Linked DNA regions of Homo sapiens. The protein of the gene in region 1 purifies or fractionates together with the protein of each later gene. This does not show direct contact. Each region holds a gene or a part of one and is shown on either strand. Other genes may lie near its edges.

The links.
Region 2: the proteins of S100A13 (region 1) and THOC7 fractionate together in Homo sapiens (co-fractionation; one large-scale study listed by BioGRID). This does not show direct contact.
Region 3: the proteins of S100A13 (region 1) and LGALS9 purify together in Homo sapiens (co-immunoprecipitation; one large-scale study listed by IntAct). This does not show direct contact.
Region 4: the proteins of S100A13 (region 1) and CD244 purify together in Homo sapiens (co-immunoprecipitation; one large-scale study listed by IntAct). This does not show direct contact.

What each region holds. Positions count from the first base shown.
Region 1 is NC_000001.11:153,617,578-153,624,916, reverse strand, and holds the end of S100A13 (protein S100-A13), read left to right. Parts: intron 1-5,878; coding exon 5,879-6,022; 3' UTR 6,023-6,118; downstream 6,119-7,339. UniProt on the Homo sapiens protein: Plays a role in the export of proteins that lack a signal peptide and are secreted by an alternative pathway. Binds two calcium ions per subunit. Binds one copper ion. Binding of one copper ion does not interfere with calcium binding.
Region 2 is NC_000003.12:63,832,372-63,839,824, forward strand, and holds the end of THOC7 (THO complex subunit 7), read right to left. Parts: intron 7,403-7,453; coding exon 7,285-7,402; intron 6,129-7,284; coding exon 6,001-6,128; intron 5,692-6,000; coding exon 5,605-5,691; intron 3,988-5,604; coding exon 3,930-3,987; intron 3,020-3,929; coding exon 2,953-3,019; intron 2,853-2,952; coding exon 2,783-2,852; intron 1,829-2,782; coding exon 1,761-1,828; 3' UTR 1,499-1,760; downstream 1-1,498. UniProt on the Homo sapiens protein: Component of the THO subcomplex of the TREX complex which is thought to couple mRNA transcription, processing and nuclear export, and which specifically associates with spliced mRNA and not with unspliced pre-mRNA.
Region 3 is NC_000017.11:27,634,947-27,642,681, forward strand, and holds part of LGALS9 (galectin-9), read left to right. Parts: intron 1-3,316; coding exon 3,317-3,408; intron 3,409-5,625; coding exon 5,626-5,827; intron 5,828-7,291; coding exon 7,292-7,402; intron 7,403-7,735. UniProt on the Homo sapiens protein: Binds galactosides. Has high affinity for the Forssman pentasaccharide. Ligand for HAVCR2/TIM3. Binding to HAVCR2 induces T-helper type 1 lymphocyte (Th1) death.
Region 4 is NC_000001.11:160,836,274-160,844,008, forward strand, and holds part of CD244 (natural killer cell receptor 2B4 isoform 1 precursor), read right to left. Parts: intron 5,629-7,735; coding exon 5,311-5,628; intron 5,228-5,310; coding exon of another isoform or gene 5,213-5,227; coding exon 4,937-5,212; intron 2,777-4,936; coding exon 2,666-2,776; intron 2,246-2,665; coding exon 2,178-2,245; intron 1-2,177. UniProt on the Homo sapiens protein: Heterophilic receptor of the signaling lymphocytic activation molecule (SLAM) family; its ligand is CD48.

The DNA.
Region 1 (7,339 bases):
TTTTAGTAGAGACGGGGTTTCACTATGTTGGCCAGGCTGGTTTCGAACTCCTGATCTCAGGTGATCCACCTGCCTCGGCCTCTCAAAGTGCTGGAATTACAGGCGTGAGCCACCGCGCCTGGCCTAATTTTTAAGTTACTTGTAGAGATGTGGTCTCTCTGTGTTTCCCAAGCTGGTCTCAAACTCTAGGCCTCAAGTGATCCTCCTGCATTGGCCTTCCAAAGTGTTGGGATTACAGTCATGAGCCACTGTGCCCAGCCAGACGTTTCCTTTTTCATCTTTTTTACTGGAAACTTCAGGTTCTCTCCTGAAGGGACAGCATTCCTTATATCCTTGTCAAGCAGTGATTGTGGTTTTTTTTTTTTTTTTCCTAAATTCAACTTCCTCTGGGCCTGGAAATGGAGGAAGTGACCTCTCTGCTTTCCATTATCTCTAGATTTTAGTTTCTTCTTCTTTCTAAGACTTCCCAGCGCCTTGGAAGATCATCTGCCACCTGCCATTCTTCTTATTGCGCTCCTTACAGCTCTTCAGCTCCTGGCTCACTGTTTTCTTCTCATCACTGCTTCTGTTGTTATTCTCAGTGGCTTCAGCATCCGCACAGACAATTCATCCAACATCTGGGCCTTTCAATTTTCTCAACTCCTCATTTCCAAAAAGATTTGTCTTCTTACATCTCAGCATCCCACTCCTCTGTTCATGCTTTAGACTGTGTCATTAACAAAATAACGCACAACTTCCAAAATCTTGATTTCAAGTTTCCCTTTATCTGCTGACCTCCTCCTGTCATTCCAGTTCTGTTCCCCTCTCTAGCTTCTCCACTTCAGCACTTCCCTGACTCCTCAGGTACCTTCAGTCTCTCGACCCTCTCACTTTTGCATCTTCCATCAACATCCCTCGGGTCCTCATTGCCCTTCCTCCTCACCTCAGGTTCTAAGGCTTCTAATTGTAATCACTGCCTTAACCCCGTTGATTCTGTCTCTCTCTGTTCTCAACCCAGTTAATCCACCATTTCACCTATAGTAACTTGCCAGTTAAATCCACTGTTCTGCACCTGCACTTGGATAGCTGAATCTGGCTGGAGAAAAATGCATAGCTTTGTTGACTTGTCTCACTTTAAATCTATAACCACAGACCCCAAAAGGGACCCTTGGCAATACCTGGCGGTTCTGTGTTTCCCTGGTTGATTCATTTACCAGTTCTTTCAGATAATTATTTCACAATTTGTCTTCTCTCCTCAAAGCTCAGTACATCTTTCCACGTTCTCCCTTTTCCTGAGAAGTTTACTCACTGAGAAGTTCAGGACTTCGAGACCAGCCTGGCCAACATAGTGAAACCCCATCTCTACTAAAAATATATTTAAAAAATTAGCTGGGCATGGTTGTGTGCGCCTGTAATCCCAGCTACTTGGGAGGCTGAAGCAGGAAAATTGCTTGAACCCAGGAGGCAGAGGTTGCAGGGAGCTGAGATTGCACCACTGCACTCCAGCCTGGGCAACAGAGGGAGACTGTCTCAAAGGAAAAAAAAAAAAAAGGAAACGAAAATAGGAGCAATCAGGAAACTTGTATGTGCTCCCTCCCCGAAATCAGCAGTCTTCTGTTATGCAAATGATACGTCACTGCCCCTAAGGCCAACCCTTCACTGGTGCCCTGGATCCCATCCCCTCTCACCCACTGCACTCCAGTCTGGGTGACCGACAGAGCGAGACTCCGTCTCAAAAAAAAAGACTTTCCTCTTGAAATTACTCCTCTCTTTCTTGTGTCCTCAAATTTTCCTTCTCCACTGTATCGTTCTTACCAGCTTACAACTGATACCTCTTTTTTTTTTTTTGAGACAGAGTCTCACTTTGTTGCCCAGGCTAGAGTGCAATGGCGTGATTACAGTTCACTGCAGCCTCTACCTCCTACGCTCAAGTGATCCTTCCACCTCAGCCTTCTGAGTAGCTGGGACTACAGGCATGTGCCACCATGTCTGGCTAATTTTTTAATTTTTTTGTAGAGACAGGGCCTCTGTACGTGTGCGTGCATGTAATTAGGTAAGCAAAGATACTGTGTGCCAGTGGGAGTATGGGCTTGTATCAGATGATGCTGTTGGGTTCTTGTGTATGTTCTGTGCTTTTCTGGTCTAATTTCCCCAAGACAGGACTGGACCCAGAGCTGGCTTCCAGGAGATTCACAGACCATCACAGCTGGAAGGAGGCCAAGAGAAAACACAGTCCCCATTCCTCACTTCACATATATGGAAACTGAGGCCTAATTTTTAAATGTTTTTGTAGAGGCAGGGCCTCATTATATTGCCCATGCTGGTCTTGAACTCCTAGGCTTAAGTGATCCTCCTGCCCTGGCCTCCCAAAGTGTTGGGATTACAGGCATGAGCCACTATGCCCAGCCCAATCCTTTATTGATGGAAATTTTTCTTATGTCCATTTCTTCCTTCTTGCAAATATCTGTTTGTATACCTACATACTGGTGGAAAAATAACAACATAAGGTAAATGTTTGGCAGTAGAAATATTAGGTTAAGTGGCATGTTCATTTTTAATTTGTTTTTGAGAAAGGATCTTGCTCTTTCACCCAGGCTGGAGTGCAGTGGCATGATCTCGGGTCACTGCAACCTCTGCCTCCCAGGTTCAAGCGATTTTCCTGGCTCAGCCTCCCTGAGTAGCTGGGACTACAGGCTTGTGCCACCACGCCTGGCTAATTTTTGTATTTTTAGTAGAGACGAGGTTTCGCCATGTTGGCCAGGCTGGTCTCGCACTCCTGACTTCAGATGATCTGCCTGCCTCGGCCTCCCAAAGTGCTGGGATTACAGGGGTGAGCCACCGAGACCAGCTTTCATTTTTAATTTTTGTGATTACCAATTTGCCTCCTAAAAAAGTTGTACCAGTTTATATGGCTACCCACACTTCATGCGATGCCTGTGTACTTGTCCAAACTGGGTGTTATTGAGCTTTTACTTTTTGCTAATCTATGATGTGAAAATGATATCTTTTTCTGATTTACGCTTATATAATTCTGAGTGAAATGGAACTTCAATTTTTTTTTTTTTTAATTTTTTTGAGACGAGGTCTCACTCTGTCACCCAGGCTGGGCTGGAGTGCAGTGGTGTGATCTCGGCTCACTGCAACCTCCACCTCTTGGGTTCGAGCGATTCTTGAACCGTGCATCACCATGCCTGGCTGATTTTTGCATTTTTAGTAGAGATGGGGTTTCTTTCTTTCTTTCTTTCTTTTTTTTTTTGAGCAGCAGCAAGATTTATTGCAAAGAGCGAAAGAACAAAGCTTCCACAGTGTGAGAGACCCGAGCGGGTTGCCCGAGATGGGGTTTCATCACGTTGGCCAGGCTGGTCTTGAACGCCTGACCTCGAGTTATCCACCCGCCTTGGCCTCCCAAAGTTCTGGGATTACAGGCATGAGCCACCATGCCCAGCCAGTAACATTTTATAATGTTAAAAAGAATCCTGTAGGCCGGGCGTGGTGGCTCATGCCTGTAATCCCAGACCTTTTGGAGGCTGAGGTGGGTGGATCACCTGAGGTCAGGAGTTTGAGACTAGCCTGGCAAACATGGTGAAACCCCATCTCTACTAAAAATAGAAAAATTAGCAAGGCGTGGTGGTGGGTGCCTATAATCCCAGCTCCTCGGGAGGCTGAGGCAGGAGAATTGCTTGAACCCAGAAGGTGGGGGTTGCAGTGAGCTGAGATCATACTACTGCACGCCAGCCTGGGCGACAGAGTAAGACTCCATCTCAAAAAAAAAAAAAAATCCTGTAGATAGTTTAATTGGGATCATATAAAAGATATATTTTAGGGAAAATCAACATTTTTAGCTGATTGAGCCTTTCTCTTTAAGAAAAATATATGTTTATTCCATTTTCTATTTATTCAAGGTTTTTTTTAATATCCCTGTGGTATAATATGAAATATATAGTTGTCATTTTGTATCCATGGGAATTGTTCCCAGAACCCCCTTGGATGCCAAAATCCTTGGATGCTCAATTACCTTTTTTTGTCCTTTTCTTGTAGAGATGGGTGTCTCACAATGTTGCCCTGGCTGGTCTTGAACTCCTGGGCTCAAGCGATCCTCTCACCTTGGCCTCCCCAAAGTGCTGAGATTGCAGGTGTGAGCCACCATGCCTGGCCTCAAATCCCTTATATAAAATCAGATAGTACTTGCATATAACCTATGCACATCCTCCTGTATACTTTAAATTACAAGTAACTCTAGGTTACTTGTAATACATAATGCAGTGCCTACTCATCACTTCATTCACATGGATTCAACTTAGTACTTAGCATGGGGCAAAATTTAAGTTTTGCTTTTTGGAACTTTGTGGATTTTTTTCTTCAAATATTTTTGGTTCTAGGTTGGTTGAATCCAGGGCTGTGGAACCCACTGATACTGGTATGGTATTTGGTATTTGGCCTTTGTTTTGTTTCTGTCACAGCTCTTTTTTTTTTTTTTTTTAGATAGTCTCACTCTGTCACCCAGGCTGGAGGGCAGTGGCTTGATCTCGGCTCACTACAGCCTCTGCCTCCCACACTCAAGCGATTCTTCTGATTCAGCCTCCCAAGTAGTTGGGACTACGGGTGTGCACTATCACACCGAGCTAATTTTTGTATTTTTTTTTCTTTTTTTGAGACAGAGTCCCACTCTGTAGCCCAGACTGGAGTGCAATGGCGCGATCTCTGCTCACCACAACCTCCGCCTCCCAGGTTCAAGCAATTCTCCTGTCTCAGCCTACCGAGTAGCTGGGATTACAGGCTCCCACCACCATATCTGGCTAATTTTTGTATTTTTAGTAGAGGCAGGGTTTCACCATGTTGGCCAGGCTGGTCTCAAACTCCTGACCTCAAGTGATCCGCCCACCTCAGCCTCCCAAAGCGTTGAGATTACAGGCGTGAGCCACCGCACCCTTCCTGCTTCTTCTTTCTTAATACTTATTTATTTCTCTTTACTGATTGAATGCACCCCCAATATAATGTTACAGTAGCCATCCTTGCCTTCCACTGGCAGTGCTTATAGTATTTTATAATTAAACGTGGTTGTAACTTAAAAAAAAGTCTTTTTTAGTTCTTCTGTGAATCAGCTTTGTTCCCTTTAGAGATTCAGTGAGTCTTCTCTGTCTGCATCCAAATGTTGGTTCAAACCTTGAGCCTCACACCCTGCCTGAGGCACCCTTCTCTGGTTTGATGTTGAACTATTGTTCAACAGTCAACTTTTTGGTTGTGCTTGTTTATCTGGCAACAGGTCCTTCGATCAGGACATCCAGTTTACTGTTGCCATTGATTTCACAGGCCTATGAGAGATACCCTGTCAAGGGCCCCTAAAAACCCAGATACTCCATGCCCTTGCCATTCCCCTGATCTAGTGACCCAGCTGGATAAATGAAAAGACACAAGGGTTGTGCAAATGAGCAGCTAAGTACTGGGAGCTTCTCCAGCTTTCTGAGAAAGAGGAGGGTGGCCCCAGAAGGCTCTGACTGGGTCCAACCCTGCAGCATCTCCCTGAGATGCTGGCATTCCTTGGGCCGATCCCACAGCAGCTGCAGTGGTGTGCTGGTGAGAGAAGATTGTGTGGATTTCTTTCCAGCTTTGTATTCAGCGACAACCTGTTTGTGGTTTGTAAGCAGCCATCGTGGAAGTATTTACACAACGGCAAGCACTAGGACTCAGGCCCCCCCACCTTTCTCTGCTGGTGCTCCTTGGAGAGGCACCCCGTGGCGGTGCAGTTTTGGGGCTGCAGCCTCCTTCTTTAGAGAAGGGGCAGGTGCCACTGCTCTCTGAGGGAAGGGCCTTGAGAGAATAGCAGCTGACAGTTCTTCCCTCCCTACTTTCTCAAGAACCCCAGTTTCTAACTCTACCCTTCCCTTTGGTGTCTCCTCAGGATGTGGGCTCTCTTGATGAGAAGATGAAGAGCTTGGATGTGAATCAGGACTCGGAGCTCAAGTTCAATGAGTACTGGAGATTGATTGGGGAGCTGGCCAAGGAAATCAGGAAGAAGAAAGACCTGAAGATCAGGAAGAAGTAAAGCCGCCTGGCTGAGATGGGGTGGGCAGGGCAGAGCTGATCAGGGCCGAGCAGAACCGCACTCTTCCCAAATAAAGCTTCCTCCTTGAAACACAAATGTTTCTTACTTACACCCCATCCTGATTTCTTTTCTTGAGACCAGAGAGTGGGAAAGCTCTCTCTTGACCTGAGGATGGATCTGAAAATTATGAGCCCCTTGAGGACAGGGAATGTTATTCATCTTTGAATTCCGCAGCATCTAGCACCAGGTCTTGTACAGAGCAGGTGCCCAATAAATGGTTGAATGAATATATGAAAAGTAGAGGCAGAGGGCTGGGCACAGTGGCTCACGCCTGTAATCCTAGCACTTTGGGAGGCTGAGGTGGGTGGATCACTTGAGGTCAGGAGTTCGAGACCAGCTTGGCCAACATGGCTAAACCTCATCTCTATTAAAAATACAAAAATTAGCTGGGCTGGTGCCTGTAATCCCAGCTACTCAGGAGGCTGAGGCAGGAGAATCACTTGAACCCAGGAGGAGGAGTTTGCAGTGAGCCGAGATCGCACCATTGCACTCCAGCCTGGGCGATAGGAGCAAAACTCCATCTCAAAAACAAAAAACAAAACAAAACAAAAAGAAAAAAGAAAAGTAGGGGCAGAGATGTGGGGCAGGAGAGGTGACTCGGGCTCAGCTGCATGGTCCTGCTCTGCTTCTTTTTTCTTGGAGTTTGTCCGTTGGATGACAATGATAGTGGTGAACAGGTATGGAGGGCTTACTAAGTACCAGGTGCAGTGCTAAACATTTTGCCTGTATTGTCTTAGTTAATTCTCACAGTCCTTTGAGGAAGGCACTATTTTTAACTCCTGTATTAAAGATCAGGACACAGATCTTAGTTAAAGTCATAAAGACAAGAATAGGTGGATTTCAGAGCTCTGATTAACCAGGATCCTCTCTGGCTGGGTGCTCAGGAACACTAGGGCCTCCTCCCCTTACCCTCTGGAGCAGTGGGGAAGCCAGAAGGAGGGGCCCGATGTTCTGCTCAAGGACCGTGGGGTGAGGGTGTGGTGGTGCCACCGGAGGCAGAACTTGCCTTGCCTTCCTGGCTTGAGGGGCATATGGTGTACACGGCCACCACCAGAGGGAGCAGGGGCGGGCATCTCGGTGACCAGCCTCCCAGGGCTGTCACTGCCTCACTGGCAGGCATCCATGCAGGGCAGCTATGAGTCCAGAGGAACCTTTAGGCTGAGGGAGCTCCCTGACCCTCCGTTAGAGAGCCCCAGACTGAGACCTCAGAGAGACTCCCAGACTGGGAATCCAAAGGGCCATTGGCAGAGACATTCA
Region 2 (7,453 bases), on another chromosome or scaffold:
ATTTGTCTGGGGCACAGTGGCTCACATCTATACTCCCAGCACTTTGGGAGGCTAACGTGGGTGGATCACGTGAACCCAGGAGTTTGAGACCAGCTTGGGCAATATAGTGAGAATCTGTCACTACGAAAAATTTTTAAAAATTAGCTGAGTATGGCGATGTGTTGCCTGTAGTCCCAGCTACTCGGGAGGCTGACATAGAAGAATTGCTTAAGCCTGGGAGGTCAAGGCTACAGTGAGCTGTGATCAAGCCACTGCACTCCAGCCTGGATGACAGGGCAAGACCCTGTCTCAGAAAAGAAAAAAAAAGAAAAATGGATTTTTAATTCTGAGTCAATATAGGCAAATTTTTGTTTCATAATTCTTACTAATAATGGAAAATAAAAACGATTGTCACAGCATAGCAATTCTGCAAAGAAATTTCTCCCATGACTTGCCAGATGAAATTAGAGGAAGCATTTATATGTATTATGACACTTTTAATATGACTACAACTGAGCTAATTTTAAACTTTCATTTTTAAAGATAAAAATTATTATTAAAATTACAAAAATGTAACATCATTAAGGTATGATTCATGCAAAGTGTCATGTTTCTGAACTAAAATAAATGGATAAGGATGGAGCTGAACAAGTATTACACATATAATGAAATACTTAAGAAAATTACAAGTGATTCCGCCTTAGCTTAATTTTTAAAAAGATTATAAATTCTTTATGCAAGACAATCTTTTTTTTTTTTTTTTTAGACAGAGTTTCACTCTTGTTGCCCAGGCTGGAGTGCAATGGTGCAATCTTGGCTCACCACAACCTTCGCCTCCTGGGTTCAAGTGATTCTCCTGCCTCAGCCTCCTGAGTAGCTGGGATTATAGGCATGTGCCACCACACCTGGCTAATTTTGTATTTTTTTTAGTAGAGATGGGGTTTCTCCATGTTGGTCAGGCTGGTCTCGAACTCCTGACCTCAGGTGATCTGCCCGCCTCGGCCTTCCAAAGTGCTGGGATTAAAGGTGTGAGCCACCATGCCTGGCCTACGCAAAACAATCTTAACAAACTATTTACTTCAAACACTCTTCACTTTATCAATACATCTTTTTCTATTGAAAATGATTCCTAAAGAACAAAACAGTAGAGAAAACAGATCAACAAAACATTTGAGAACCATATTCCTCTCATATTAAGGAGAGATATATAAAGTAATGTGCACTATTTTACTTTGCATCTTATAATTAACGTCCCATACCAGCGAATTTTAACAGCCTGGAACCTCTCTCCACAATAAGCATACACCACTAACATTTTGCATGTAATTTCACAGGTTCATGGTCCTCCTAAAGCCTCTTCATAGACTCCGTTTTCAGAAGTGTAACCATTTCCAGAAATTGGCTCATTTTCCCATGTACATCCTAGAAATGCCAACTTCTAACAATTTTCAACTTATTTTGTAAGCCAATCAATGTTACCAGTTAAAAACTACCTAGAATATTAATGAGCACAAACATATGCAGCTTAAAAGCATTTTATTAAGCATTTTTGGATGTTGCTTCCTACCACTTAAGAATAAAAAATGCATTTTAATAAAAACAAATCTATACTGAAGTCATTTTCCTTTGTGAGAGGAAATATGAATGAAATACATTCATACTTAAAAACAGAGTATTTTACTGCCAAAACTTTAAATATCTCAAGAGCATACCACATTTTAAACACATTATGGTCATGTAGCTATTTCAATATTCCTGGGAGTGGTGGGCAATTAGCCTGTCTATGGCTTAGGATCTGTTTCCATGCTTGCTTCCTGAGCTTCTTCTACCTCTGAGAGTTTTTCATCATCTGTAATTGAGAAGGAAACATAAAACCTTAGTCAAGTTTGCCTATATTTTATATTCGATGAACACATGAAAACATGTTTATCCTTTATTAGCCAATACAATTAAAGCTAAGATGGCTACTAGTTGAATCAAACTTTAAAATTTATGTGATAGACTTCACTTAAAAAAAAAAAAATCCAGGCAGGGTCTGGTGGCTCATGCCTATAATCCCAGCACTTTGGGAGGCCAAGGCAGGTGGATCACCTGAGGTCAGGAATTCAAGACCAGCCTGGCCTACATGGTAAAACCCCGTCTCTACTAAAAATACTAAAATTAGCTGGGTGTGGTGGCATGCACCTGTAATTCCAGCTACTAGGGAGGCTGAGGCAGGAGAATCACTTGAGCCTGCAAGGTGAGGATTGCAGTGAGCCAAGATTGTGCCACTGCACTCCAGCCTGGGTGACAGAGCAAGACTGTCTTAAAAAAAAAAAAAAGAAAAGAAAAAATGGGTCTTAGGCTATTCTTTAAAACAATCAGAAGATCAGGTAACACAAAAATTTCCACTTGCCTATAGTGAATATAAAGAGCAAGTCTCCAGTTCCCCAAAGCACCCACTACTCAGTGGGTATGCAAATGTTCGTATGTACTGATTTCTTATTATTGCCTGCCTGGGTCCTGAGTTGTTATATTATAGTAGTCAACTACAGTGAACCAAGAAAGATTCCAAATCTATCATCCTTGAATTTTTCTTAATTTAAACCACTATGTATATGTTTAAATCCTATATTACTACAAATTAAGACTTTTCTACATGTATTCAAGAAAGTTGAACATGAGTACCTTCTAACGTCATCCAGCTACACTGTTCAGAAATTGAAGGTATACTGTCTCTCCAAGATGTATATTTCAAAAGGTACATCCCTGGGTCATTTAAAAAATCTTCATAAGCATTTACTTTGAGACTATTTCTACTTACTTTCCAATGTTTGCTGAAGTTCATGGATGGTACTAAGAAGAACATGAAACTGTTTCCGTCTCAATTCCAGCTGTGTTAACAAGAAAAAAATTTATACAAATGACCTGTATATATAGATATATAGACAGACAGATAGACAGATCATGAAGGCTAAATATATATGCGAATACCTTATCTTCAACACTTTCTTTAATGTGTGAAAGATGCTCTAATTCTTTTCCCAGAGCCTCTAGTTCCCTGGAAATAATAAAACAGTGTTACATTTTGCTGAATGGGGGAGAAGAGTTTACAATTAATGCCTAACTTTTAAGTTACTAGATAGGATTTTTAAAATAAAAAAAGGGCTTATAAGGAGTTATAACACTCCATTATGGTGAAACTTTTAAAGCTGAGGATGATTTCTTCTTAACTTCTAAATATGGACTCACTTTCATTAAAATTACATTTTTGGATCCATTTTTAAAGTACAGAAAAATACAGATAACAGAATAACAAGACCCAAGAAATGATACATATTGTGAAGTTTAACTTCGAGGGTTTTTTATTTTGGTAAAAGAAATAAAACATTGCCAATTAACTCGAAATACCCTTTGAATCTTACGCCTAGTCCTCTATCCTGGGCCTTTTTATCTCCTCTACCTCCCACTCAGGCAACTACTATATCATTCTTATTCTTTTTTATGCATATACTTGTATCCCTGAATAATACACAGTATTGGTATATAATATTTGAAAGGGGGTTCTAACTTTTATAAATGGTTATTATTCTGTATGTGTTTCAGGAATTTAAATATAATTTAAAGTTTATTATGTGTCTTTTCACTGATTATGTTTTGAGAGCTGTGTTTTAAAAGGGCATAACTAGTTTATTCTTTTTAACTGAAATTCAATATTTTAATATATGAAGACCATATTCTATTTATCCATTGTGATATTGATGCATATTATATGCATTTATTTTAGACATATAGCTGGTAAGGTTAGAGGAAAATAAAATCTAACAGAGAAGTATGGGAAAATATAATATTGAATATCTGACCCCTCCTTTTGAAACATATTTATTTCTGCAAAAATGAAATGCCTACGGTAGTTTTCGAGCATTTATGTATAAAGGTTAGTTCCTTTCAAAGTAAAGCTCTACACTTACTTTAATGTCTCATGCCTGTCTGGATGGTGCTGAATCACTTTTGCCAAAGCATCATATTCTGTAAGACATAAAAATATTTATCAAACTAAGGATTTTTTGAATGTGAATTATCAAAACAAAATGTGTAATATCACAAACCTCTCCTAATCACTTTCCTAGTACATCAAGAAATGAAATCACTGAAAGATGAGTATTGCCAGTTTTAGTTAACTGAGTTATAATTATAACGATACATAACATCAAAAGTGTTCCAAACAGGGGTTTTAGCTCCCACTTTTTTTCCATTTATATGTCCTGGACAGAACGTAAGAGGTCAGCATAAGCATAAGCAAATTTAAGTTATTATTGATTATCAAATAGACTGATTCTGAGAAGGATCTTACTCACTAGTTGTCCAAAAAGTAAAATAAAATAAAATACAATCAGTGAATATATCCTACCATTAATCTGAGTTGTTAGTCAACAGCAAATTACACTTCTCACTCATTCCAAAAGTTAAGATTTCAGAAACTTGCAAATAACTTAAAATTCAGGTTCTATTTTCTGCTCCACTGAGACCTCCAAGATAAGTCATGTAACTCCTGTTAAGCTTTCTTATGAAGTGATGAGTGGCAGGATTTACTTAAAAGCCTCATTAACCAACGAAAACACTGCAAAATATTTTTAGATGACTTTAGAACTGATACTAAGTTGGTATATGTTACTGTAAATAAGGCACCAAAACTTCACCATACACATTTTAAACTGAAAAAAAAAACTTGTAAAAAGAGGAAATTAAGCTTCATCTTAATTAGTTCATTAAAAAGTGAAAATTCATTGTTTTAGAACTGAGCATATTAATTCAAAGTATGATTCTTTTGGATACAAATTTTTTGAATTACAAAATAATACATGCCCTATGTAAAACAAAACAAAACAACACAAAAACAGAGAAAAGAACCTAAGCCATAAAAACCCACAACTTCAAAATAACCATTAACATTTTCTATTTTCTTCTAGTTTTTCATATCAATGTAACAGTTGTGATTACACATTATATTTTTTATTTTTACTTTTCTTCAATTTACATTATAAGAAGAGCAGTGCCTCTAACATTAAAAATTATCTTGAAATAGTATTTAGGAACTACATAAGGGTATACTCTAACTTAAAAACAAGAGATTATAACAAAACTCAACTTTAACCTTCTTATTAGATATTCTAGGCAGTCTAGAAATGTTTGCTTGCTTTGTACTTAATGAAAACTCAGAGTTTAAATTCTTTTCCATTTCATTTTTTGGAAAGTAGCTCTATTAAACAAACAAACAAAAAACCCAAACCATAAATCTAGTATATTTATGTAAATTGCCTCTGCTGATTAACCATAACATTATTTAGGCAAAAGGGTCCAAGATGGTAAAAATTTAATACTTAAGAAATACTGGGATAAGAAAAAAAAAGAGAAAAACAGAAAAGAAATACTTGGATAATCAATGTAATCCAGCAAAAACATTCTTCTCAACACAGACTTCCTTCTCTATTTTAAAGAATAATATAGTTTTAAGGAATTAAAATTTGGATTTTTTTTAATCCAGGTTGATTCAGGCTGCAGATTTTACCTCACAACATTAAAAACTGCATGAAAACTGTAGTCAGTAATAATGTATTTGCACATTAAATCCCTCAAAACCCTTACCTTGGCGATTTTTTCGTATTCGTTTTGCTTGAAGAATTTGCTTTTTGCACTCAGCAATTTTTTCATGTGCTCCAGCTATGCTACATTCTATATGAGAAGGTTTTTTAAAAGATAGTTGTAACAAAATCAATAATCCATTTTTAATTTTAAAACGCATTTATAAATTAACCTCTATTGGTAACAAAATAGACACTAGTATTTTTAAAAAATAGCTGTAACCCAAAGTACTATATCATCTTAGAATACACATTTTTTATAGCTAACATTTACTGTATTCTTTCCATTAATACAGTAATTGTTATTATTCTTTTACCACCAAAGAAAATTGTTAGCAGGTATTGTTTCCTTTAGACCATAAAAAATAAAATTACAGATAGAAACATTAAGATTCTTTACCTATTTCCTTGTAAATTTTTTCATAATTTTCCATTTCTCTGAGATTCATATCATATACTAGTAAAGTTTTGCCCATTGAAAATTCACATTGAGACAGCGTGCTCAGCATACGTTGGTACTGGCTATATCTAATGAAAAAGAAAGAAAACCAAAATAAAGATATTTGTGGACTGACAAAAGTGAACTGTTATAATGCAGACAAATATTTGCTAATTAAATTATAGCAAGTTCTGAGAGAATCATTTGCTTATTTAAAATTTAGAATATCTGTCCCTTAAGTTTTCTTTTTATCAAATGTAGTATTCTTGAATTTAACTACTTTAGTTACAAATGCAAAGGTGGGATTGTTGTTCTTATCAATGCACATTTTATTCAAACAATTATTTGAATTTTGTTTAAAAGACTTTAGAAATACTTTAAGATGTTTTTTTAACTTCACAATTCTGTTCCCACAATTTTTTCACTCTATAAAATTATTTATATGGAAAGCAAATTCAAATGAGAAAAAGTTTGCTATGTTAAAAAATAAATAAATATAGTTAGGCGTGGTAGCTCATGCCTGTAATTCTGGAATTTTGGGAAGCCAAGGTGGGCAGATCACTTAATGCTAGAAGTTTGACACCAGCCTGGCCAACATGGTGAAACCCCATCTCTACTAAAATACAAAAATTAGTCAGTCATGGTGTTGCATGCCTATAATCCCAGCTACTCAGGAGGTTGAGGCACGAGTACTGCTTGAACCTGGGGGGCGGAGGTTGCAGTGAGCCAAGATTGTGCCATTGCACTCCAGCCTGAACAACAGAATGAGACTCTGTCTCACAAAAAAAAAGATTAGATATACGTGTGTGCGTGTGTATCAGGTTGGTACAAAAGTAATCGTGGTTTCTGCCATTTCTGCCATTAAAGTTAATGGCAGAAATCACGATTAATTTTGCACCAACTTAATATATACATACATAGCAGCAGCCTTTTATTAGCAAAGGAGAAAATTCCATTTAGATATTTTATCTTACTAAACACTTATGTCCTAAAAGTAACCAAACTAATGAGTCTGAATTTAATCTTCATTTCTCCTTACCAATCTGCCTTCTCCATGTTTTAATAAACATATGAGAGGCCTTTGAAGAGAAGAAAAGGCCAAGAAAATCTACTCTTGGTTAATTAAGAGTTGACTCCACTGTACATTTAAGGTGAGTGAAAATTTGATCTACTCACAGGACCTTAATATAGGGCCTAAAATCACATTAGGACACTGGTATGGAAACAACAGTGAAAATGAAATACCCCTCTTCCTGGGACCCAGAGTTGCACCATTTAATGAAACTCTTCACTAGCAGATTAATTCTCCGATCATCTCCAGCACCATCTCCATCAATGAGGAGACGCTTCCGTATAACTTCGTCTGCAGGAAAGAAGGGCAATGTTACCATCTGGCTCTTGGTAACTTTCAAGT
Region 3 (7,735 bases), on another chromosome or scaffold:
CATTCCATATCAGTGCTCAGAGTTCTGTCTTCCTCTTTTTCTTTTCTTTTTAAGGCTACACAGAACCTATTAAATGGAAATACCCTAATTTATTTCACCTTTTTCCTGTCAGAGGACTTTTAAGCTCTTTCCAATGCTTTGCTTTATAATCCTTTGTGTTATAATGCTGCAATGAATAACCTTGTTTGTAGGATGATATTCAATTTAAAAACTCATTTTTCAGGCCAGGCATGATGGTTCATGCCTGAAATCTTGGCCCTTTGGGAGGCCGAGCCGGAAGGATCACTTGAGCTAGCCCAGGCAACACATAGAGACCCCATCTTTACAAAAAATATTGTAAGATTAGTGGGACATGGTGGCCTGCACCTATTTTGTCCCAGCTATTCGGGAGGTTGAGGCGGGAGGATTACTTGAGCCAGGGGGTGGAGGCTGCAGTGAACCATGATCACAGCCCTCACTGAACTCCAGCCTGGGCAACAGAGTGAGAACCCATCTCTAAATAAATAAATAAATAAATAAATAAATAAATAAATAAATAAATAATCTTGTTTTTCCGAATTTTGGGGGCACTATTTAAGATATTTTGAAACCTCACAGAGCTTTTTTGGGGAACTTGTTGCCTTGGAGATTAGCCTGTCCTGTCCCGCCCCCATGATCTGTACTTCCTCTTTCTCCCTCCTGGCTTCCTTAATTAAGCCTTGTGTGTACTTGCCAGCCCATGTCCATCACGCTCTGCCTTCAATTCTAGATGCTGTGCTGTGAATACACTTAAGTGGAGGCCGCATGCTTCCCAGGAGGGTGTGTATTTTCAGTGTTGTGTCTCATGATAGTATGAAAGGCTCTGGAGAGAATCACAGGCTTCCACAAACAGGCAAGGAGAAAAATGTTCCACAGACATGTTTCAGGGAAAACAGGCTTCCCAATCCTAGGCCGTGCTGGTCCATAATTGGATCAGGCTGACTCTCCTTCCCCTACACTGCTGGTGTAGACAGGGACAAGAATGAGAAGTCAGAGACACAGAGAAGCTGTGATTTGCTTGAGGTCACTAAAGTACTTAATGGCAGAGTTCAGACCTGACCTGAGGGGCAACAAAAGACACCCCCCTCAAATCCATGGGGAGCAGAGTCTAACTGAATCAGATCCCAGATTTCCTGGGGCTCTCACGGTGCCAGGTGTGTACACTGAGCTAGGATGGGTTTCCCAGGGTTCTGTGTGGTCACACAACTCAACAATACAGACCAGAAAGCAGTGGCAAGTAGGCTGAATTTGGCTGGTGGGTGTTTTCTGTTTGGCCTGCACAGTGTTTCTTTTAACGTTTTATTATAGGAAATTCAAACATGCAGAAGGAATTGTACCATCAACAACACACACCCATCACTCTGCTCCAACAATGATCAACTCAGGCCTATCTTGCTTCATCCTATACCCTCCCTCGCTTGCTTCCTTCCCACCCTCAGATATGTGGAAGCAAATCCAAAGATACCATTCCATTTCAAATATTTCATTTTGTATCTCTATAATATGGGAATTTGGGGGGTTTCAAGACAGGATTTCACTTTGTTGCCCAGGCTGGAGTACAGTGGTGTGATCATGGCTCACTGCAGCCTCCACCTCCCAGGCTCAAGGGATCCTCCCACCTCAGCCTCCCAAGTAACTAGAGTTAAAGGTGTGCACCACCACACCTAGCTATTTTTTTTTTATTTTTTGTAGAGATGGGGGTCCCATTACGTTGTTCAGGCTGGCCTCAAACTCCTGGGCTCAAGTGATCCTTCTGCCTCAGCCTCCCAAAGTGCTGGGATTATAGATGTGAGCCACTGTGCCCAGCCAGGAGCTTTTACATAATCCTTTTTGACAAATTTTCCCCCAAGAAATTAGAAAGTTTTATAGAAAAAAAAAATCCGGACTTCTGTCTTCTCTTAAAAATTTGGAAGCTCTGCCAATACTGGGCCCAGATGGCAATCACTGCTTAGCACGGAGTAGATGTTGACTTTTCAGATGAGGGGTGTGACATCTACTTTGCCACAGTCCCCACCACTCCCCCACCTGGCCATCTCACCCATACACATCACCTGCCTGGCTCCTTTAGGCATTTAATTTGTGTAGGAAATTGACCTAAAGGAGATATTAGAGAAGACATTAAAAACTTGAAGAATGTGAAAATCAGCCAGGAGATAGAACTGTGCTTTAATGCGGGTTATAGAACGACATTGGATATGAAGCATTTTGGGAATAAACTTTGAAAATTGGAAGTACCAGTTTGTGAATTTTGCTGAGAGAGATGAAGGTGGGGGGTGGGTGACAGTGGTGAAGCATCTCCTATGTGCCAGTCTCTTTTACCACAGGCTGTTTCTCACAAAATCATCAATCATATGCAGCAGGTGAAACACCTTCCTATTTTACAGATGAGGAAACTGAGGCACAGAGAGGTGAAATAGGCTTCCCAAGGTCACTCAGGTCATGAGCAGCAGAGCTAGGATTCAGACCTGGAGTTGGCCTGACTCTAAAACGATGCATGCCTCACCATGGCCCATCACTCCTTTAAAGAGCACCAGAAGAGAGAATTTGACAAAGTGGTTGCCCGTGGGGCCTGGGATGGGTGGGGAAACCACGCTAGGCCTCGGGGCTGCTGAGGGCCTGAGGGAAGGAATGGGGAGCCCGGGCACAGAAATAGAGGAGGGGGCTGCCCCACGGCTACAGAAGGCATCTGGGAAGACGCTCTGCTGAAGGTGGCCAGGAGGGCAAAGGTCACAGTGGCCATTGTTATATGGTGGTGGTGGGGAGAGGGGGATGGCTTCTTCTTAACCTCCTCGGGTGAGTCGAAGGTTTACCCTCCAGACCCTTGATGGGTCCCTTTGGTCCCTTGGGCTTCCTGAGTCTCCAGCCAGGGCCTGGGACCTTTGCTGGGAGCTTAGCATGGGGTCCAGCAGCCCCCATTGCTACCTAATTCCTTAGCAGCCCAGGGTGTCTGCCTGCTACTTCCCTGCCTGGAAGGAAGGCCTTCTGCCTGGTGCATTCCTGCTGCAGCCTCCACTGCCTCTTAGACTCTCACACAAGCTCAGCTCCCTGTCGCGTCCTCTCAGGGCCAGGCTTCTCCTTATCACAAGCTTAGACTGTCTGAGTAACTAATTGGATTTGTGTTTGCCTCCACACAGGACCCTAAGACCCGTGGGGCTGCGACTCCCTCTGTACTGGTCACAGCCGCACCCTATCCCCTTGCATGGGGCTGTCAAACCCAGGCTGGCCACTGACTAGCGCTGGAGGGGAGCAAACGGGAGGCCGGCCACCTGACTGATGTTCCCACACCTTCTCCCTGCAGGCTGTCCCCTTTTCTGGGACTATTCAAGGAGGTCTCCAGGACGGACTTCAGATCACTGTCAATGGGACCGTTCTCAGCTCCAGTGGAACCAGGTGTGTGTGTATATGGATGGAAACGTTTCACTCCAGCCTCGTCCCTTAGTAAACCACTGTGCCTGTGAGCCTGGGTTAGTTCAAACAGCAACATCCAAGCTCACGTGCCTGGCTCAGGGGAGGCCCAATGCGTCCCTAACCCATGCCACAGGGCAGCACTCCACAGGCACAACCTGCACCCAGGGGTGCCATTAACCTGGACTCCAGGATGAATGGGGCCCTGGGAGCTGACGGTCTAAGGAGGGCGTGGGATGGTCAGAGTTGGATGATTATGTTCTGGGTTGAACCTTGCACACTGTGACTAAGAGTTGCAAAAATCAAACTTCCTCCATTTCCCGTAACTGCTCTCATCCACTCTGAAGCTCTCCTTCTGCTGATGTGAAAATATTGAAAATTGCCATCAAAAGTAATTTGGTCTCTTTTGGTTTCAAGGCCTTTTCTAGAAACTACTAAGTCAATTCAACATACTAACATTGTATCAGGGCTGTTTCCCACCCCCTCCTCCCTCCCAAGGTGGGCTGTCTGGGAACAGAGAAGAGCTCACATGGCTTCTCAGTGGCTGGGAGGGCTCTAGACCCTCACTCAGGCCTGGCTGACCCCTGCCGAGGCACCCCGACCGGGTGGCACAGAGGTGTGCAGCTCTCTCCTGGTTTAGTGGGGGACCATGGGTGGCTGCCTGCTGAACTCTGCGGGGCCCACAGAAGAGCCTCTGGACTCATGACTCTCTCTCGGAAGCCTCTCTGCCTCAGTCCCAGGGGACCTCTCCTTAAGACCTTCTGGGCCTCACAGATCCCAGCTAAACCTCAGCTTGGACACCTAGATTCTTGGTGACCTCCTCCGCCATTGCCATCCTGCTGTGGGACTTCTCTGAGAGACTGCGGTGCCCTCAGGAGATGCCAAGGGCAGGGAGGCCCCGATCTCCCTGAACCCTCCAACCAGGGGAATCAGGACCATGACCCTGATCTTCCGCCCCTTCCTCTCTCCCTCTCCCTCCACCTCCCCCACCCCCCAGCACCAGGAGGGCTTCCCACTCCCATCCTGTCATATAGAGACAGATCCTACCTCAGAGGGCCCTCTCCTCTTGGGAGCTTTCTGTCTCTCCCTTCCTTGGGGCAGGAATTTCGAAAGGACTACAGGGATGAAGCTGAAGGACTCCAAAGGAAAAAATACATGCAGATATATTTCAAATGCAATCTTCTCCATTTATTCATTTAATTAATTAATTTTTTTCTTTTGAGACAGGGACTTTCTTTCACCCAGCCTGGAGTTCAGTGGTATGATCATAGCTCACTGCAGCCTCAAATTCCTGGGCTTGAGTGATCCTCCCATCTCAGCCTCCGGAGCAGCTGGGACTACAGGAGTGCACTATGATGCCCAGCTAATTATTATTATTATTATTTTGAGATGGAGTCTCGCTCTGCCACCAGGCTGGAGTGCTGTGGCGCTATCTGGGCTCACTACAACCTCCGCCTCCTGGGTTCAAGTGATTCTCCTGCCTCAGCCTCCTGAGTAGCTGGGACTACAGGCTCATGCCACCATGCCTGGCTCATTTTTTGTATTTTTAGTCGAGACGGGGTTTTACCATGTTGGCCAGGATGGTCTCGAACTCCAGACCTCGTGATCCACATGCCTCAGCCTCCCAAAGTGCTGGGATTACAGGCGTGAGCCATCATGCCCAGCCAATTTTTTTTTTTTTAACTAGAGATGAGCTCTCACTATGTTGCCCAGGCTGGTCTCAAACTCCTGGGCTCAAGTGGTCCACCCGCCTTGGCCTCTGCGCCCAGCCCCAATTTCACATGCTCTTTACATTTGTTCTCTTCTTTCCCATTTAATCAGGCATGTGCTGGCCTCCAACAAGTGTCCACTGGCACAGAAGGCTCTCTCTTCTAGGTGTGCTTAACAACTTCCATCTTCGGTATCAATTGGTAATCACTTTCCAAGACCTATGTTTCTTGTTTGCTAATACCAGCACTTTTCCTTAACCGTTTTCTATTTGCTTTTAGCAAATCATGCTGTAAAGGCAAAATCCAATAATTAAAACAAAAACACATTAGATCCCAATTAGAAAAACAAAAACGATGCCAACAAAGCAGTCTCTGCCATACAGGTTGTGTGCAAGATCCAGACAAATGCAAAGCACAGGCGCCGAGGCCCTCCTGTGCCTGTCACTGGCAATAATCCATGCCACAGAAGACTATTTGCTTTCCCTGGGCCTAGGTTTGCTGTGAACTTTCAGACTGGCTTCAGTGGAAATGACATTGCCTTCCACTTCAACCCTCGGTTTGAAGATGGAGGGTACGTGGTGTGCAACACGAGGCAGAACGGAAGCTGGGGGCCCGAGGAGAGGAAGACACACATGCCTTTCCAGAAGGGGATGCCCTTTGACCTCTGCTTCCTGGTGCAGAGCTCAGATTTCAAGGTGAGCAAGAATCCCCTCCCCACCTCTCACCCCTGGGACCCCCAGCCCTATCAGGTGAATGGCCTTTAAGTAATCACCTAAATTGACATTCAGCCAGAGTGACACCACTATACAGATAACACGCTCATTTCCTTGTGAGGTGTTACCCATGGCTGCCTAGTCTCCTTATGCACCTTCATCTGAATCTACAGGTGCACCTGCTGCTTCTTTTACTCTGAAAATAAGAACTAGAGGAGTCATCACGTTGCTATTTGGTGTTGTGTGTCTTTGAATTCCAAGCTCATTCCATTCCTCTGCTATAGCCATTCCTCCTCTCCAGGTCACTGGTAACATTTATTTTTCAGCGACATCGTTCCAGCCTTTATCCAGGGTCTATTAAGGGTATAGTTTTGTAAGCACATTGCAAATTACCCTTGCAAGCAGAGTAGGTCTCTGGGCTTGAGAAGCCTGTGGGTAAGTCAGTCCAAGTATGCTTATCTGAGATAAGGATGTCCCCATTCGTTCAGTATGCAACCTGAGGTCACCTCTCCTCTGCTCCCCATGAGCATTTTATGCATATATAAATAATACCGCTGCAGCCATAAAAAGGAATGAGATCATGTCCTTTGCAGGAACATGGATGGAGCTGGAAGCCTTTATCCTTAAACTAACGCAGGAGCAGAAAACCAAACACCACATGTTCTTACTTATAAGTAGGAGCTGAACGATGAGAACACATGGACAAAATGGGGGGAAACAACACACCCTTGGGCCTGGTCGGAGAGGGAGAGCATCAGGAAGATTAGCTAATGGATGCTGGGCTTGATACCAAGGTGATGGGTTGATCTCTGCAGCAAACCACCATGGCACCCGTTTACCTAGTTAACAAATCTGCACATCCTGTACTTGCACCCTGGAACTTAAAATCAAAGTTGAAGGGGATGGAAATGGCAGATCACGCCTATAATCTCAGCACTTTGGGAGGCTGAGGAGGGCGGATCGCTTCAGGTCAGGAGTCCAAGACCAGCCTGGCCAACATGGTGAAACCCCATCTCTACTAAAAATACAAAAATTAGCTGGGTATGGTGGTGGGCTCCTGTAATCCCAGCTACTCGGGAGGCTGAGGCACGAGAATCACTTGACCCACTGCACTCCAGCCTGGGCGACAGACTGACATTCCATCTCAAAAAACAAAAAAAAACAGTTGAAGGAAAAATAAATAATTAATAAATGAAACCCCAGGTGAGCTAAGACTAGAAAGACAAACCTACTGCAGGAAACAACCAGAAGAACGAAAAGTCCAACTGGAGCCTGGTAGAGACTCGGGTTGATGCACTTTGGGTCACACACACGTTCCTGTAACTGGCCCCACACTGAAGACCAGACTCAGGTCTTCATTTTCTAGAAAGAGGGTCCAGGAGCTCAGGGGTGGTCCCCATCCCAGCCTGGGATGCCTCCCCCAGAACATGTGCTCTCCTCTGGCAGGTGATGGTGAACGGGATCCTCTTCGTGCAGTACTTCCACCGCGTGCCCTTCCACCGTGTGGACACCATCTCCGTCAATGGCTCTGTGCAGCTGTCCTACATCAGCTTCCAGGTCAGACTGTCCACCTGGCACCGGTCCCAGGGGCTGGGATGCAGGGCCCAGCGTAGCTGTGTCTAAGCCCTGCTGGGTGGGCCCAAGCCAATCTCCTACCCAGGTCACTCTGGGGACAACCTCTGCTTCCCTGTCCCAGTACCTGCCCGCCCCTTCTCCTCTGTCACTCTGCCCCTCCTTCTGTGTTACTGTCTCTGTCCGGAACACCTGCCTTGGTCTCCCAGACTCCTCAGCTGCCCCTTTCTCTTCATCCCTCAGTTTCCATCCTGGTAAGGAGGGCATATTGTTCTAGAAAGAGCCCAGGCTCAAGAACCAAACTGAATCCAGTTCAAA
Region 4 (7,735 bases), 7.2 Mb from region 1:
GGGGTAACATGAGCGACAGTTCGGTCTGTCCAGATTTAGATTGAGTGGGGAAAAACAGCACAAAGAAGAGGGCTTTTCAGGAGACTGGGAGGGAGGTGGCAGGACTGGGGAGAGTCATTGATCCTCCCAAGATGGGAAGAGACAGGAAGAAGAGCAGTTTGGAGTGGAACCATTAGTATCAGGAGCAAGGAACCACCTAGGTGTGAGGGGTTCCAGCAACCCTGCTCAAAGAGAATGCTGTCACTTTCTTTCCTTTAGTAACTTAGAAACCCTTCCTTGCAGAGCTCTGAGTAGGGCTGTTATCTGAGCCTTACCTCAGAGCACTGAAATTCAGAAAGTTTAAACATTTCAAAGACCAAACACAGTTAAGCCCTCTCTAGATCATCTTTGAGGCCACCTTGCCCTTGACCTCAAGTCAGCGCCCTGGGCAGCTATAGTGCTGGGTGCAGCCCTGAACCCAAGGGCCAAAGCAGGAAGCAGAGCTTCCTGCTTCCCTTTTCTTGTTCCTACCCCTTAGGAAATCGGTGGTGGAGGTATTTCATGCTGCCGGCCACTGAAAGCATATTGCCAGTTTGGGTTCTACTGGGAGCCAGTGGAGGCAGCAGGGTTCATTAGGCAAGGTGCAAGCAAAATTCCTGGAAGCAAGAAGAAGCTAAGAGAAGCAGAGAACTGTCAGCTGTCCTTAGAGGCTGGGGAGTCATGGGCATCTGACAATGTCAATAACTTCATTTGTGTTTTAAAATACTGCAGGAGTTTGTTGCTTTTCTCTCCCGTCCAGACCCGTGTGAAGTGTTTCTAGAAAGATTAGAGCTGGGTCTCAAAGTGAGACCACATGAAACTTGAGATTTAGGCCTTCAAATTGGAGCCCTGAGACAATAGGGAGAGGCCAGAGAGGGCTGAGGCCAGGCAGGGAGGAGCTCTTGAGTCGGAAGAAGTAAGCTAATAGGCCTGAATCCCAAAGAGGTTTCCTTTGCTCTAAGTTGTTTTTCCTCCTGTGGTCTCCTAATCTCAAGTCATCTTCTTTTTGGAAAAATAGATTATTTTTAGCAAGCACCCGGGCATCACTGGCTGTGGGTAGATTCACATGCTTTCAGGAATTTGTACCAGAGTCTGGTAGCAGTGAGAGAAACAAAGTCCCCTTTTATTATTCACATTCCAATAGCCACTGCTTTATTTTTCACATTCCCATAGCCACTGCTGGGGCAAAAATAAATAAATAAATAAAGATAAAAATAAAAAAACAGGCATGGGGAGCTGCTCTAACAGCCTCTGAACCCAGAGGCATCTGGGAGAGGATGCTTGCCTGCTCTGCGAGGCTGCACAGGGCCTCACGTATGTGGCCAGCACGGAAGAGCCCCACCACATGTGCTTCCTGCGTGCTGCTGGGTCTCCACAGCAAAGCGCCAGGGGGCAGTGGAAAGAAGGCACTTCCGCCCCACTTCACCCACCCTGCCCCACTTCCTGCCAGCAGTTTGGTAGGCTCCATCAGAGCTTTTCCCCTGGGCCTGTCACCACATCTGCCCTAAGCGAGACACAGCAGTGGGGGCATCTGCAGGCCCTCTGCAATTTCCTCCTCTTCTAATTCTTGGATGACAGGCAGAGTTGGCCCCTGCCTGCTGCGAAGAGCAGGCGAGAGGCTCCTGGAGGAGCCTACTCAGGCTGGTGGGCTTTGTGCCAGGCTGGTTACTCTCTCTAGTACCTCAGCCACACTCAGGCCTCTTCTTCCAAAAGGCTGTGAATGCAGCCTATTGAGCCAGCTACAAAACTATTATGCTTTGGCTGGTCACACTTCCCAGCCTGTGTCACCATTAAGGGACTCATGAATGTAAGCCCTGACTCATTAGGAAAAAGAATTTGTGGTCAGACAACAAATACCACAGCAGCACTCTGCCTCTGTCATTGATTTCTGTTGTGCTCCATCCCTTCTCAGCAGGTGCAATTCTGCACCAAGATGCCCCTTCAGCCTCCCTTTCATCTCCTCTGCTCCTTTTGTTTCCTCTTTTCCTCCATCACCAGAACTAGGAAGCAGGTGGAGAAAAGATAGATGGGGAAGGGCTGAGGGTCACATCAAAAGGACAGTCGTTCAGTCCTTTTTGTCCCTCTGCTCTGAATAACCATCATTGAAAGAGCATTTTCCAAGCCAGCTGAGAGAGACCCCAGCCTCCGGGATGACATACGTGATTTCTCCTGGTTTTCAGATCCTTGACATCTTCGTAAATTGTCAAAAATTCCTTGGGACTGGTCTCTGAGGGAGGAAGAAAACAAAGAGCAGAGCTGCAGAAACCTCCAGAAGGGCTTTTGCTTCTAACAGGTCCCACCTCTACCCCAAATGGCCAAACCTTAAAAAAGGTTCTAGAAAGGAGGCAAGTTAATGCTCTTCCCAGGAACCCCAAAGAGCACAGAGGCAGCAACCGAACTGCCCCTCCCACACCTCCTCCCAAACCAGCTGTCTACAGGGAAATCTGCGCATTGGGATCAGAAGGCATGAACTGGGAGAGAGAGCCTAGCAACCTGCTTGCCCCCCGCCACCACGCACACAAACATACCAAAGCTCGTTGAGGAAAAGGAGATGCTGTGCTCCCAGACACATCCCACTGGACGCAGGACAAAGTCACAGGATCCAAGGCCTCAGGCAGGAGCACCACCCTAAGGACCTTCCACTCACCTGACTGCTTCTCCTTCCTCTTTCTCCTCCACACACAGAAGCAGGCAAGGGTGCCAAGGAACAGTGCGCTTAGAATCACGATGATCACCAAAAACGGCCAAAATCTGAATTCTGAGGAATACAGAAGGCGTGAGAACTGAGCTGTCAGCTCGCTCTCTTCTTCCTTCCCACCTGCCTGCTGCAGGGGCTGCCTCAAAACCCACTTTTCTCTGTGTTGTGGCTGATTGCCTCGTGCTCTGAGAACTCACGGTCAAGGTTTTCTCTTTGCTCATTTGGTTAACCTCCTCTGAGTGATGCCAAGAGCATAGATATATCAGACAGGCCTGGCTCAAATTCTAACCCTGTGAGCTCTGCACTATTTATTTAACCTCTCTGGGCCTCTCAAGTCATCTTATTTTTGGAAGATGCCTCAGAGCCTCTTAGATTTTCTCACCTGTAAAAGGGGATAACGTTATCTACCTATAGGGGTTAATTACATGATCTAATACAGTTGCCCTCCAAAGTTTTGAGTTCCACAATGTGGATTCAATGAATTGTGGATCCAGAATATTCAGGGAAAAAAAATGCATGTGTATTGAATATGTAGAGGCCTTTTTCCTTGTCATTATTCCCTAAACAATACAGTATAACAACTATTTAAATAGCATTTACATTGTATCAGGCATTATAACTAATTTAGAGGTGACTTAAGTAAGGTATACAGAAGGATGTGTGCATAGGTTATATGCAAAAACTGCACCTGTTTATGCCAGGGACTTAAACATTCGTGGATCTTGGCATCTGTGGTTGCGAGGTGGGTCCTGGAACTAATTCGTCATGGATACTGAGGGACATGTAGCACAACAAATGTTACATTTATCCATTCCTTTGTTTTTAACTCAAAAAATACTCATTGTACAGGCAAGTTTTCCGTCTCACTTTTCCACTATTCCTTCCTTCATGGCTCTTCCTCATTTGAACTTCTACTTAAAAGATTTGTGTCACACATGTAGCCTGATATATAATCCAGCCAACAAGAGGAAGGAAAAGGAATTAAGTGTTCCAAGGGCTGACAAGGCTCTTTGCAAACATTATCTCATTTACTCTTAACAGCAATCCTGTGAGGTACTTATTATCACCCCCATTTTACTCAAGGGGGGAAGAAAATTGAGGCTCAGAGAGGTTAATGAATCTGCCAGAGATCACAGAGCTTCTTTTTTTTTTTTTTTTAAATAGAGATGGGATTACACCATATTGTCCAGGCTGGTCTCAAACACCTGGACTCAAGTGATCCACCTGCCTCAGCCTCCCAAAGTGCTAGGATTACATGTGTGAGCCACCACACCTGACCTCTAAGAGATCACAGAGCTTCTGAATGATGAAGCCAGTGTCCTAGTTCAGTGGCATGATCTTGACTCACTGCAACCTCCGCCTCCTGGGTTCAAGCAATTCTCCTGCCTCAGCCTCCTGAGTAGCTGAGATTACAGGTGCCCGCCAACACGCCCAGCTAATTTTTTGTATTTTTAGTAGAGACAGGGTTTCACCATGTTGGCCAGGCTGGTCTCAAACTCCTGACCTTGTGATCCACCCACCTCAGCCTCCCAAAGTGCTGGGATTACAGGGAGCCACTGCGCCCGGCCTGCCTCAGTCTTGTTTCTTTTTTGTCCACAAGTAGTTATTTTTGTTGCCCCATTTGGCTATAAGTTCCTTATGAATGAGAGCTGTATGGTTTTTTTTTCCTATAATGCCCATGCTGCTGGTACATTAAGTCCCTGTTTATGTAATAAAAAGTTGTGGAACGGTAACTCAGGTAACTCTTAGGATGAGCATAAGCAACAGCCCAAGAACTCATCTAGGTATCCCTGGGGTCATCCTGATGCTCCTGCTCCAGGCTACTGCTGCACAGTGTAGTTACCTCTTGAACTATGTGGCTTGGAGAAAGTTATCACTCAAGAGGAGAGGACAGTTCTCCATCAGCCTCTCCCAGGAAGAAAATAATGTTCAGGAGCCATTTCAGGACTGTCACTCACCAAACAACTATGCCCTCCCTCTGCAGAAGAAAAGCTTGCATCTCCCAGAAGGAAATAGGGATAACATTTTTTTCCAGAGTAGGATAGGCCTAGCTTTACAGGAACTGTGTGCCTGGAGGCCAGGGCTACCCTGGGAAGGGCTACAAGGCACTGGGAGAGGAGGCCAAGGGATTTTATCTCATACCACATCTGTCTTGCACATGAGCCTGGTTGCGGGGTCCAAACCTTCAGCGCTTGTTATAGCCCAGTGTGTTCCACTTACCCTGATGGGCATTCTGACAGTCCTGAGTGAGATTCAGGGTGTGGCTTTCCCAGCTAACAGGATTGCTGACATTGCAGGTATATGTGTGAGTGCCATTAATGTCAACCTCCTCGTCCAGGTAGGTGAGGTTCCCTGCTGTCTGGATCAGCTTGCTCCCTCTGTACCAAGCATAGGACACATTGCCATCCCTGGAGACCAAGCAAGACAGAGCCACTTGGCATCTCCCTCTGTCCAGGATCTTCCCCTGCCCCTGTAGGCGGGGTTTCTCAACTTTATCTGGAAGCAGAGATTCTGATCAGAAAGGCATTGGAAATACAGAACTTAGAGGCCTATAGGAATCAGAGAGGGCAGTATGAACAGTCCTGGAGACTTACCAAATACAAAAACCTGGAACGTGGCTGTCTGAACTTTTCCAGATATACTGGTGACCTCCAGGCAGTAGAGGCCACTGTCCTGCTGCTGAGCTGCCTTGATGAGAAGACTCAAGTTCTTGACTATAAAACTGAATCTATCATTGGAAGTATTGGAAGGCAAAGAGCCATTCTCCCACTTCAATATGTGATGAAATCCATTTTGTGAGGGCAGCAACTTCTTCCATGCAATGCTGTCAACCTTCGTCTGTATGCTGTTTGGTTGTAACTGAAGAGGCACTCCCGAGATGCTAACCACATGGTCAGCTGATCCCTGGCATCCTAGGAAAGAGAACCCAAGCTGAAAGTAGCGGGAAGAGTGTCAGGCCTGAGCAATGTGGGCAGCTGGATGTGACTTCCCTTAAGCCAATTGGGTGGGGATGAGTATGAGGAGCCCAGAACCTAGGAGCACCTTAAAGCATATCCCCTCCATCTGCCTCCCCTTGTCCCCAAGCTCTGTGTCCCTAGTCTGAGGGATCCCATAGACCAATAGCTAAAATCTTGAGTACTTACTATGTGACAGGCAGGTTTCACACTTTATACATTTTAACTATTTAAGTTAAAAGGTATGATGAGTTAAAAGAATGATGAGCCTGAAACCTAGTCAGTTTGGTGTTATGTTTTTGTTTTCTTTTGTTTTGTTTTCTAGAGACAGGGTCTCACTCTGTCACCCAGGCTGGAGTGCAGTGGCGCAATCACAGCTCACTGCAGCCTTGAACTCCTGGGCTTGAGGTGATCCTCCCATCTCAACCTCCCTAGTAGCTGGGAGCACAGGTGCTAGGGAGCTTATTTGTTTACTCTTTGTAAAGACAGCAGTTTGGCTTGAGAGGATAAATTCTTAACCATGATGCTATAAATACCACATCTAAGGTGACTCCCTCCAAGCAGTGCTGAGGCAACTACTAATGGCAAGTAGTGACTGTTGGAAATTCTGAATGGTCAGGCCCAGGAAGACTAACCGTCCAAGCTGAACTCATGGCCCCTCAACCATCCTCTCACAGAGCTGAATACATAATCCTCTCTCGTGGCACTTGGTTCATTGGATTTTGGTCATTACTTATTGATGTTTGCCAGTTTTTCAGTGATCAGAAAGTCTCCACAAAAATTTCTCCCTAGAAAACAATTTTAAAAATAAAACTACACTTCCCAGGCAGATCCCAGCACTTGCCTCTCAAAGAATCAAGATGAAACCTAATGAATATGGGGGTGTGACAACCTAGAGCAATTCTGTGCAGTCAGTGTACAAAACTGGAAGTTCCTACAGCCATTTTTAGTAATAAAGCTATGTGGCATGGCCCAGCAGGTGCAGGAAATTAAAAAGTCTCTCTGGGTGAGTTGGGGAGGCTCAGGGAGGATTTGGAAGAGAAAATAAGAGATGGGGAGAGTTTTACAAGTGGCTCCGTTAAAATGGAGGCTATTAAGAAGAGAGCAATTGAGACAGAGGGGTTTTTATATGTCCAGTGCATTATGAATGCAGTCTCTCCAAGCCACAGCTTCACCCTGGCATTTTCTCAAGAGACTAAGTAAATAATTAAAGGACTTGTAATACTATTTGTTTGATGAAATATGTTTCTTTGATCTTGATGCTCCTAAGACTAAAACACATAGGTTCCCATTTATATTTATATGACTTGTACTGGCTCTGCCCATTAGCAAACCAAAAGCTTCTCAAAAGCAGAGACTGTGCTGTGCATCTCTGTGTCTCTGTCTCCTACGATCCTAGCACTATTTATAAGAACAAGTCAACCTACCAAATATTGCACAAAGACCCTGAGAACAAAGGTGAATGGAAAAAATCATTACTAAACCTACAAGGAGGACATATACTGTCTTCATCAATTATTCAGTCCTTACTGAGTCCCACTGCAATCCAGCCCCTGAAGAGGCAGGGCCTCTTCATGTATAAGGCATGATTCCTGACTCCAGAGAGTTTGTGATCTGGAAACAGAACACTTTCATTCTACAGCATCCCCTTAATTGTTGAGATAAAAAATCATCGAAGGAATTCTAATTATGTAATGAAAATCCAGGTTAAGACATGCTAACCAATCCTCCCACTAAAAATAGCTAGAAGAAAAATGAACAACATGTAAAAGCACATTGTTAAAGTTATCAGAGAGTTTATAAAGCAGTGAAAAATTATGGGGCCAATATCTGGAAGAAGGAAATTCAGAGAGGTGAGATCAGCATTTCTGACTGTTGTTCCCTGGAGGCATCTTCTGATTCCATAAATGGCAGCTAAAAGGCTGAGAAGCTGAGCAGAGCTCACAATAAAACTCAAGGAACTAAGAGAACATGAAGTTCACGTCCCTCCTATTAGAAAGCGGGTATACATAAAATCCATCAGTGTTGAGGTTGGTACCACAGAGGGCTATACCCAAAGAGTAAG